Homo sapiens: one gene and its partner. The protein of the gene in region 2 purifies or fractionates together with the protein of the main gene of each other region. This does not show direct contact. Each region holds a gene or a part of one and is shown on either strand. Other genes may lie near its edges.

What was found.
Region 1: the proteins of UGT1A3 (region 2) and DCPH1 purify together in Homo sapiens (affinity purification with mass spectrometry; one large-scale study listed by BioGRID and IntAct). This does not show direct contact.

Annotation. Positions count from the first base shown.
Region 1 is NC_000006.12:151,462,373-151,466,198, reverse strand, and holds part of DCPH1 (damage-control phosphatase ARMT1), read right to left. Parts: intron 1,747-3,826; coding exon 1,581-1,746; intron 1-1,580. UniProt on the Homo sapiens protein: Metal-dependent phosphatase that shows phosphatase activity against several substrates, including fructose-1-phosphate and fructose-6-phosphate.
Region 2 is NC_000002.12:233,766,804-233,770,508, forward strand, and holds part of UGT1A3 (UDP-glucuronosyltransferase 1A3 precursor), read left to right. Parts: intron 1-230; coding exon 231-362; intron 363-1,045; coding exon 1,046-1,133; intron 1,134-1,416; coding exon 1,417-1,636; intron 1,637-3,705. Other genes in the region: UGT1A8 (UDP-glucuronosyltransferase 1A8 precursor), read left to right, coding at 231-362, 1,046-1,133, 1,417-1,636; UGT1A10 (UDP-glucuronosyltransferase 1A10 precursor), read left to right, coding at 231-362, 1,046-1,133, 1,417-1,636; UGT1A9 (UDP-glucuronosyltransferase 1A9 precursor), read left to right, coding at 231-362, 1,046-1,133, 1,417-1,636; UGT1A7 (UDP-glucuronosyltransferase 1A7 precursor), read left to right, coding at 231-362, 1,046-1,133, 1,417-1,636; UGT1A6 (UDP-glucuronosyltransferase 1A6 isoform 1 precursor), read left to right, coding at 231-362, 1,046-1,133, 1,417-1,636; UGT1A5 (UDP-glucuronosyltransferase 1A5 precursor), read left to right, coding at 231-362, 1,046-1,133, 1,417-1,636; UGT1A4 (UDP-glucuronosyltransferase 1A4 precursor), read left to right, coding at 231-362, 1,046-1,133, 1,417-1,636; UGT1A1 (UDP-glucuronosyltransferase 1A1 precursor), read left to right, coding at 231-362, 1,046-1,133, 1,417-1,636.

The DNA of each region.
Region 1 (3,826 bases), on a different chromosome or scaffold from region 2:
GCCTATAATCCCAGCACTTTGGGAGGCCAAGGTGGGCAGATCACCTGAGGTCAGGAGTTCAAGACCAGCCTGGCCAACATGGCGAAACCCAGTCTCTACTAAAAATACAAAAATTAGCCAGGTGTGGTGGCATACGCCTGTAATTCCAGCTACTCAGGAGGCTGAGGCAGGAGAATTGCTTAAACCCGGGAGACGGAGGTTGCAGTGAGCTGAGATCGTGCCACTGCACTACAACCTGGGCAACAGAGCGAGACTCTGTCTCAAAAAACAAAACAATGTCCTGACAATTTTTGTTTTGAACTCAAAATATGCCTTTATTTGTGACTTTGCTTGCCCTCGGGGTCTCACCAGGGCTTCGTCTCCAGGTATAATCTGTTAGCAAGTTCTGTAGCTTCTATGTTCAAAGAACACCCAGGCTCTGGTGATGTCACTAACTCTTATGCTACCAACTTGGCCCCAACCTCCCTCCCCAAGTCATTTTCAGACCAGCTCTCCCCATTTCCACCTTCAGCCCCTGCAGTCTATTCTCAGAAACATTCCTTGAAATAGTCAAATAGCATTACCTCTCTGTTCAAAACCCTCTGATGGCTTCTGTTTCACTTTTAGTAAAAATTTATTTAATACAAGCCGTTCTGTGTCCCTTCCACCCCGCTACCTCTCAGTAACTACAGGGTTTCCTTGCAATTTTTCTCACCTCTCCATGTACTCCGCAGACATACACCTGACTTACTCCTTCCCTGCCTTCAGGTCTGTGGCCTCAGCCTCCATGGACCCTTCCCTGGCAGCCCTGATCCCTTCTCCAACATTCCCAACGCCCTTTTCCTGCTTTATTTCTCTTCATAGCACTTTCTAACATTTCTTTTTGAAAGTCTTCCTCACTTTTTCTGGAAAATGTGAGGGCTGGGGATACTGCTGTGTACCACGTCTCCTAATAGTTCTGATTCTAATAATGTGTTGTAAATTTCAGGATGTTTGCATGAATTAAAAACTAAACTGAATACAAGATAAAGAAATGTAATGAAACTGTATTAATGGGCCAACTGAATACCCGAGTATTATCACCTACCGATGCTAACAGCAGGCTGTATCCCAGGCTCTGTGCTCAGCACTTCACATGCAAGCATCTAGTTGAATTCTCACATCAAATTACACAGTACACATTATCCTCACTGAACAGAGGAGGAAACTGAGGCCCAGAGAAATTAAGTGACAGGCCTCAGGTCCAAACACAAATTAGCCACAGAGCCAACACACACCCAAGTCAGCTGGGAGACCAAATTACTATTAAGAATTCTTTCAAGCATGACAAAAGCTAAGCAAATTACTATGAAGTATTCTCTCAAGTATGACAGAAGCTAGGAAGTCAGATAACTTCTTTGCCACTAAAATCATAGCCAGTGAGAGCAGAAAAATATTTCAAACCCATTTCTAGCAATTAAATGGATTTTCATCTTTTAACACCACTAGATAAAAAATCATCAATTATAGCAAAGAAAAATATTTACATGTTTTGTTAACTGTATAGCAGTTTATTTTCTGTTTAAATAAAACATACTCAGAAGATTAATGATCACATTTACCTGCAGAAGTTTAAAAAACTCATCTTTCAGCTGATTTTCATCTAGGTCTTCAATAGTTCTTATCAATTGTTGCAGGTGAGTACATAAAGCAATGATGGATTCCTGTGACCCATAGAAATTTTGCTCTTTTGATTCTTTAAATACATCAAAGTAATCGATTGGTGGACTAAAGTAGGAGAAAAACAAAGTGAAACATTTTAGTTTGTACATTTGGATAACTGCAGTTCTTGAAAGAAAATAGCACCATACAGTCTCAATAATCAGTGCTAACAGAAACTAGATATAACATTTATCTAATTAACTAGAAAAACTTAATACTAAATAATCAAATTACACAAAAATCTCTCAAACTCATTTTAATTGTCAAAAAAGTTCCCAAATCAAGTATTTTTCTGGACATATTAAATAGTGATAGTGACTATGCTCATAATTATCTACCTAGCAGGGATTCCAGGGCACAAGAAGGAGAAAGATAAATTTCAAGACAACTGCTTTAGTTCAACAAACATTTTTTAACCACCGATGTGGCAGAGTTCCAGTAACAAATGTATAGAATATAAACAGAATATTTGAATACAATGCAGCAATCATTAACAGAATGAAACACAGAGTATGATGGAAATACAATGAGTACTTAAGATAAATCAGACAATACTATTGTAAGTTTTAGAAGAATGATAATTTTTTATCACTAATTTTAGGTATTTTTGGGCAACTTTAACCAAAGGTGATATATGTGGCATGGCTACACCTTCATGTTTTCCAGTGAGAGATTAAATCATATTATATTGGCCTAAGAAAATCATAACTAAGGAGATATAAATACTAATATAATAATCTTTACTGAATTGAATATAAAAGACATTCAGATTATTGGGTCTTCCAAATTAGCTACTTTTTCCATGGGTCATTCATGTTAGGGTAAAAACAATCTAACACTGATGTAATCGGCTTGATTTGTTTTGTTTTGTTTTTTTAAATAACATACCAGTATTTAAACATCCAAATGATGGCTGCCTCCTTCCAGCCAGTCAGTCACCTCGGGAAGCTACACCCTTATTCCAAGGGCGCTGCCATTGCTCAGAGCACTTTTGGAATTCCTCTTTAGGAATTTTCTTCAGAACCTATGGCACATCATTAAACCTCCTGTCAGTGATCACATATCTTCATCCTTTGGAGTCAATTTATTTTTGGAAACAGCCAAAAGTCACTCGGAGTGATTTCAGTAGAATGAGGTGTGTGATCAAATTGGATAAAAACTTTTTTTTTAATCAAAAATGAGTAAAAATACAGGAAGACTAATTTTCATTTTGAGGCATGTAAACTGGCTCTGAAAGAAGTTCCAAATAATTCAAAGATGGTTTTAGCAATGGCAGCACCGCTGAAATCAGTCAGTCTCTCAAGGTGACTTAAAAGGATAAAAATCATTCGGATGCACAGACCCAATCCGGCCCACCACCTGTTCTGTCTGACTCACATGCTAAGAGTGGTTTTTATATTTTTGAATGGCTGAAAACAAAGTGAAAGAAAAGTAGTATTTTGTAACACATGAAATTCAAATTTCGGTGTCCGCTGAATAAAGTTTCTTTAGAACACAGCCATGCTCATTCTTACATATTATTTAAGGTTGCATTCACACGACAATGGCAGGTTCGGCAGCTGCAACAGAGACCACATGGCCCCTATGCCTAAAAGATTTACTACCTGGCCCTTTACAGAAAGTTCTAATAAAACATGTTCTAATGTTTTATTAACAAACCATTCATTAAAGTCACATCTCATATTAAGAATGAGCCTTATTTTCGTATTTAAGAGAGTAAACTCACATAACTATATATAAATTCTCATTTTAGAATGTTTTCTATTTTAGAATCTACTAAAGCTGTGTATGTACACACACTATGACCCAGTGATTCACTTCTAGGGAGGGATATATCCAACAGATGTATTCATACATATGTTCAGCAAAAAAGTGTCAGAATGTTTATAGCAGCATTCTTCCTAACAACTCCAAACTGAAAAGTACTCAAATATCCATCACAACGAAGTAAACAGATTGTAATATGCTCATAAAATGCAATATTATAAAGCAATGAGAATGAATGATCTATAATTATATTGTAACATATGGATGAGTCTCACAAACATAAAAATGAGTGAAAGAAGCCAGACACAAAACTATACACTGTATCATTTCATTTCAGTAAAGTTAAAAAACAGGCAAAACTAACACAGGTCAGAACAAT
Region 2 (3,705 bases):
TTTTGCATCTCAAGGATAATTCTGTAAGCAGGAACCCTTCCTCCTTTAGAAGGAAGTAAAGGAGAGGAAAATGCTGTAAAACTTACATATTAATAATTTTTTACTCTATCTCAAACACGCATGCCTTTAATCATAGTCTTAAGAGGAAGATATCTAATTCATAACTTACTGTATGTAGTCATCAAAGAATATGAGAAAAAATTAACTGAAAATTTTTCTTCTGGCTCTAGGAATTTGAAGCCTACATTAATGCTTCTGGAGAACATGGAATTGTGGTTTTCTCTTTGGGATCAATGGTCTCAGAAATTCCAGAGAAGAAAGCTATGGCAATTGCTGATGCTTTGGGCAAAATCCCTCAGACAGTAAGAAGATTCTATACCATGGCCTCATATCTATTTTCACAGGAGCGCTAATCCCAGACTTCCAGCTTCCAGATTAATTCTCTTAATTGGAACCTTAGATTTGGCTTTTCCCTGCCACTTCCCAACTATTAATCCAAAGGTTTTTTTTGTTGTTGTGGTTGTTGTCATTGTTTTCAATTTGACTCTCAAATACTCTATTAAACTATGATCCACCACACTCAGAAGTATCATTTTCTCTAAGAGACTCAAAAGTGTATTAGGGAGAATTTATTTAAAAATAAAATAAATGGGATATTGTTTCTTCATATTAAATAGAAGTATTTCTCCAAAAAGCTGTTGGTTAGAACACTGAATTTATGTCTTACATTTCTGCTCTTATAGTTCTGCATCCACTTGTTTCATTAAGCAAACTTTCCCTTAAAGTGCAGGAAAGTGAAAAAATCCTAAGTGCACAGCTTGATAAATTATCACAAATTCACGTAGTGCATACACCCTTGTAACTAAACCTCCAAAACAAGATGCCGGAAGTTGCCAGTCCTCAGAAGCCTTCACAGTTACTGATCCTCCCACTCTGTTAAAGACTGTTCCTTCAGAGGACCCCTGTTTTCTAGTTAGTATAGCAGATTTGTTTTCTAATCATATTATGTTCTTTCTTTACGTTCTGCTCTTTTTGCCCCTCCCAGGTCCTGTGGCGGTACACTGGAACCCGACCATCGAATCTTGCGAACAACACGATACTTGTTAAGTGGCTACCCCAAAACGATCTGCTTGGTATGTTGGGCGGATTGGATGTATAGGTCAAACCAGGGTCAAATTAAGAAAATGGCTTAAGCACAGCTATTCTAAAGGATTGTTGAGCTTGAAAATATTATGGCCAACATATCCTACATTGCTTTTTATCTAGTGGGGTATCTCAACCCACATTTTCTTCTGCAAATTTCTGCAAGGGCATGTGAGTAACACTGAGTCTTTGGAGTGTTTTCAGAACCTAGATGTGTCCAGCTGTGAAACTCAGAGATGTAACTGCTGACATCCTCCCTATTTTGCATCTCAGGTCACCCGATGACCCGTGCCTTTATCACCCATGCTGGTTCCCATGGTGTTTATGAAAGCATATGCAATGGCGTTCCCATGGTGATGATGCCCTTGTTTGGTGATCAGATGGACAATGCAAAGCGCATGGAGACTAAGGGAGCTGGAGTGACCCTGAATGTTCTGGAAATGACTTCTGAAGATTTAGAAAATGCTCTAAAAGCAGTCATCAATGACAAAAGGTAAGAAAGAAGATACAGAAGAATACTTTGGTCATGGCATTCATGATAAAATTGTTTCAAATATGAAAACATTTACGTAGCATTTAATAGCGTTGTTTCAAATATAAAAACAAATACATAAAAATCTGGATTTTTATTTCTTCTTTTTTTTTTTTTTTTTTTTTTGAGATGGAGTCTTGCTCTGTCACCTAGGCTGGAGTGCAGTGGTGCAATCTTGGCTTACTGCAACCTCCACCTCCCACGTTCAAGCAGTTCTGCCTCAGCCTCCGTGTAGCTGGGATTACAGGTGTCCACCACCACGCCCGGTTAATTTTTGTATTTTTTAGTAGAGAAAGGGTTTCACCATGTTTGTCAGGCTGGTCTTGAACTCCTGACTTCAGGTGATCCACCTGCCTCGGCCTGCCAAAGTGCTGAGATTACAGGCATGAGCCAGCGCGTCTGACCTGGATTTATAAATAAGATAATTTAGAGGTTATTATTCACTTTATAAAAGGATTCTTTAGTTTCTATATAATTTATCATATAATTTATTTAGAATTTTATTTCCCCCATTAGATTTAAAACTCCAATTTACATAAAAAGTTGCCATAATAGACATCTGATCCATAAGTTTCCTGCACAGAAAGAAATACTCCATTATAAGAAGCATAGTATCTTTAAGAGAAAAACAACTCAAATGCTTAGAAGTACAGCTTTTTGCAGCACTGGAACCTGTGAGAAATTTTGTCCATGGAGTTTATGAATGAAGGAGCTATAAGATATCACAGACAAAGTCTTAGAATAAGAGCAAAGGAAAATTTGCTCAAATGTGGCCCTGAAAACGATTCAAAGGGCAAATGATTTCTGGATTAAAGTTAGTATATTACTGTCAAGCTCACTGGTAATAGGCTTATTAGAACCTTATGGGAAGAAGTGGTGGCCAGTGGTAGATTTCATCCGACAATAGATACTGTGTGCATATGTGCGTGTGCGTTTGTGCATGTGGCTGTGCTCATGTGTGGGTGCACACGTGTGCATTCATATGCGTGTGTGTGTGTGTGCGTGTGTTTATGAGAGTGTCCATTGCTTTCTCCCATGGTTACCTCCTTTAGAAAGAAGCAGCAGTCAGGAAGACAGATGTGAAGAGCTGGAGCATGTTCAGATGAGAGGAGACGGAACACGGGGACACACCAGCTTGAGCAAGGGACAACAGGGGAGGACTGATGACTGACTTCCCACCTTTGAGGTGCTAATGTGTGTGTGGTGGCACTGGATAAAAGATCAATGTTGGCTAGGCACCATGGCACACGCCTGTAGTCCCAGCCACTCTGGAGGCTAAGGCGGGAGGATTGCTTGAGCCCAGAAGTTGGAGGCTGCTATGAGCCGTGATCATGCCACTGCACTCCAGCAACCTGGGCAACAGAGTGAGACCCTGTCTCAAAAAAAAAAAAAAAAATGAAAAGTCCACATAACCTGAGCATCATGTGCCCAGAGCGTTGGGTGGTGTGGTCCCATTCCTTCCTTCCAGCGGCTTCTTCTGGCCACCTCAATGTCAGGATGTCCTGCTCACATATCAATACCATTAAAACCTGACTTCTTTCCCTGCACTGTTGAAGCTCCTTCTTGAGGCTCACATTATGGATATAATTTTGATTCTTTCTTCAGTGGTATAGATAACTACTTGTAACCTAAGAACAACTTGGTGAAAGTCCTCTAATACATTATTTTTTAAAAAAACACAAATCAATGAGCTCAACTTATTAACTAACTTTCATCTATTCATTTTTGAGCCATCCCTGTCTGATTGTGAATCTCCATGATTCCAACACTCTGAGCTGGGGATAGTGCCTACACAAAATAAAAAGAAGTGGAAAATTTTCAAACATCAGTTTATGCTGACAACCAGGCCATAATAGGTGCTCAATTACTATTGAATGAATGAATGAAAGTTCTGGCCAGGTACGGTGGCTCATGCCTGTAGTCCCAACACTTTGGGAGGCCGAGGCAGGTGGATCACTTGAGGTTAGGAGTTCGAAACCAACCTGACCAACATGAAGAAACCTTATCTCTACCAAAAAAATATAAAAAAA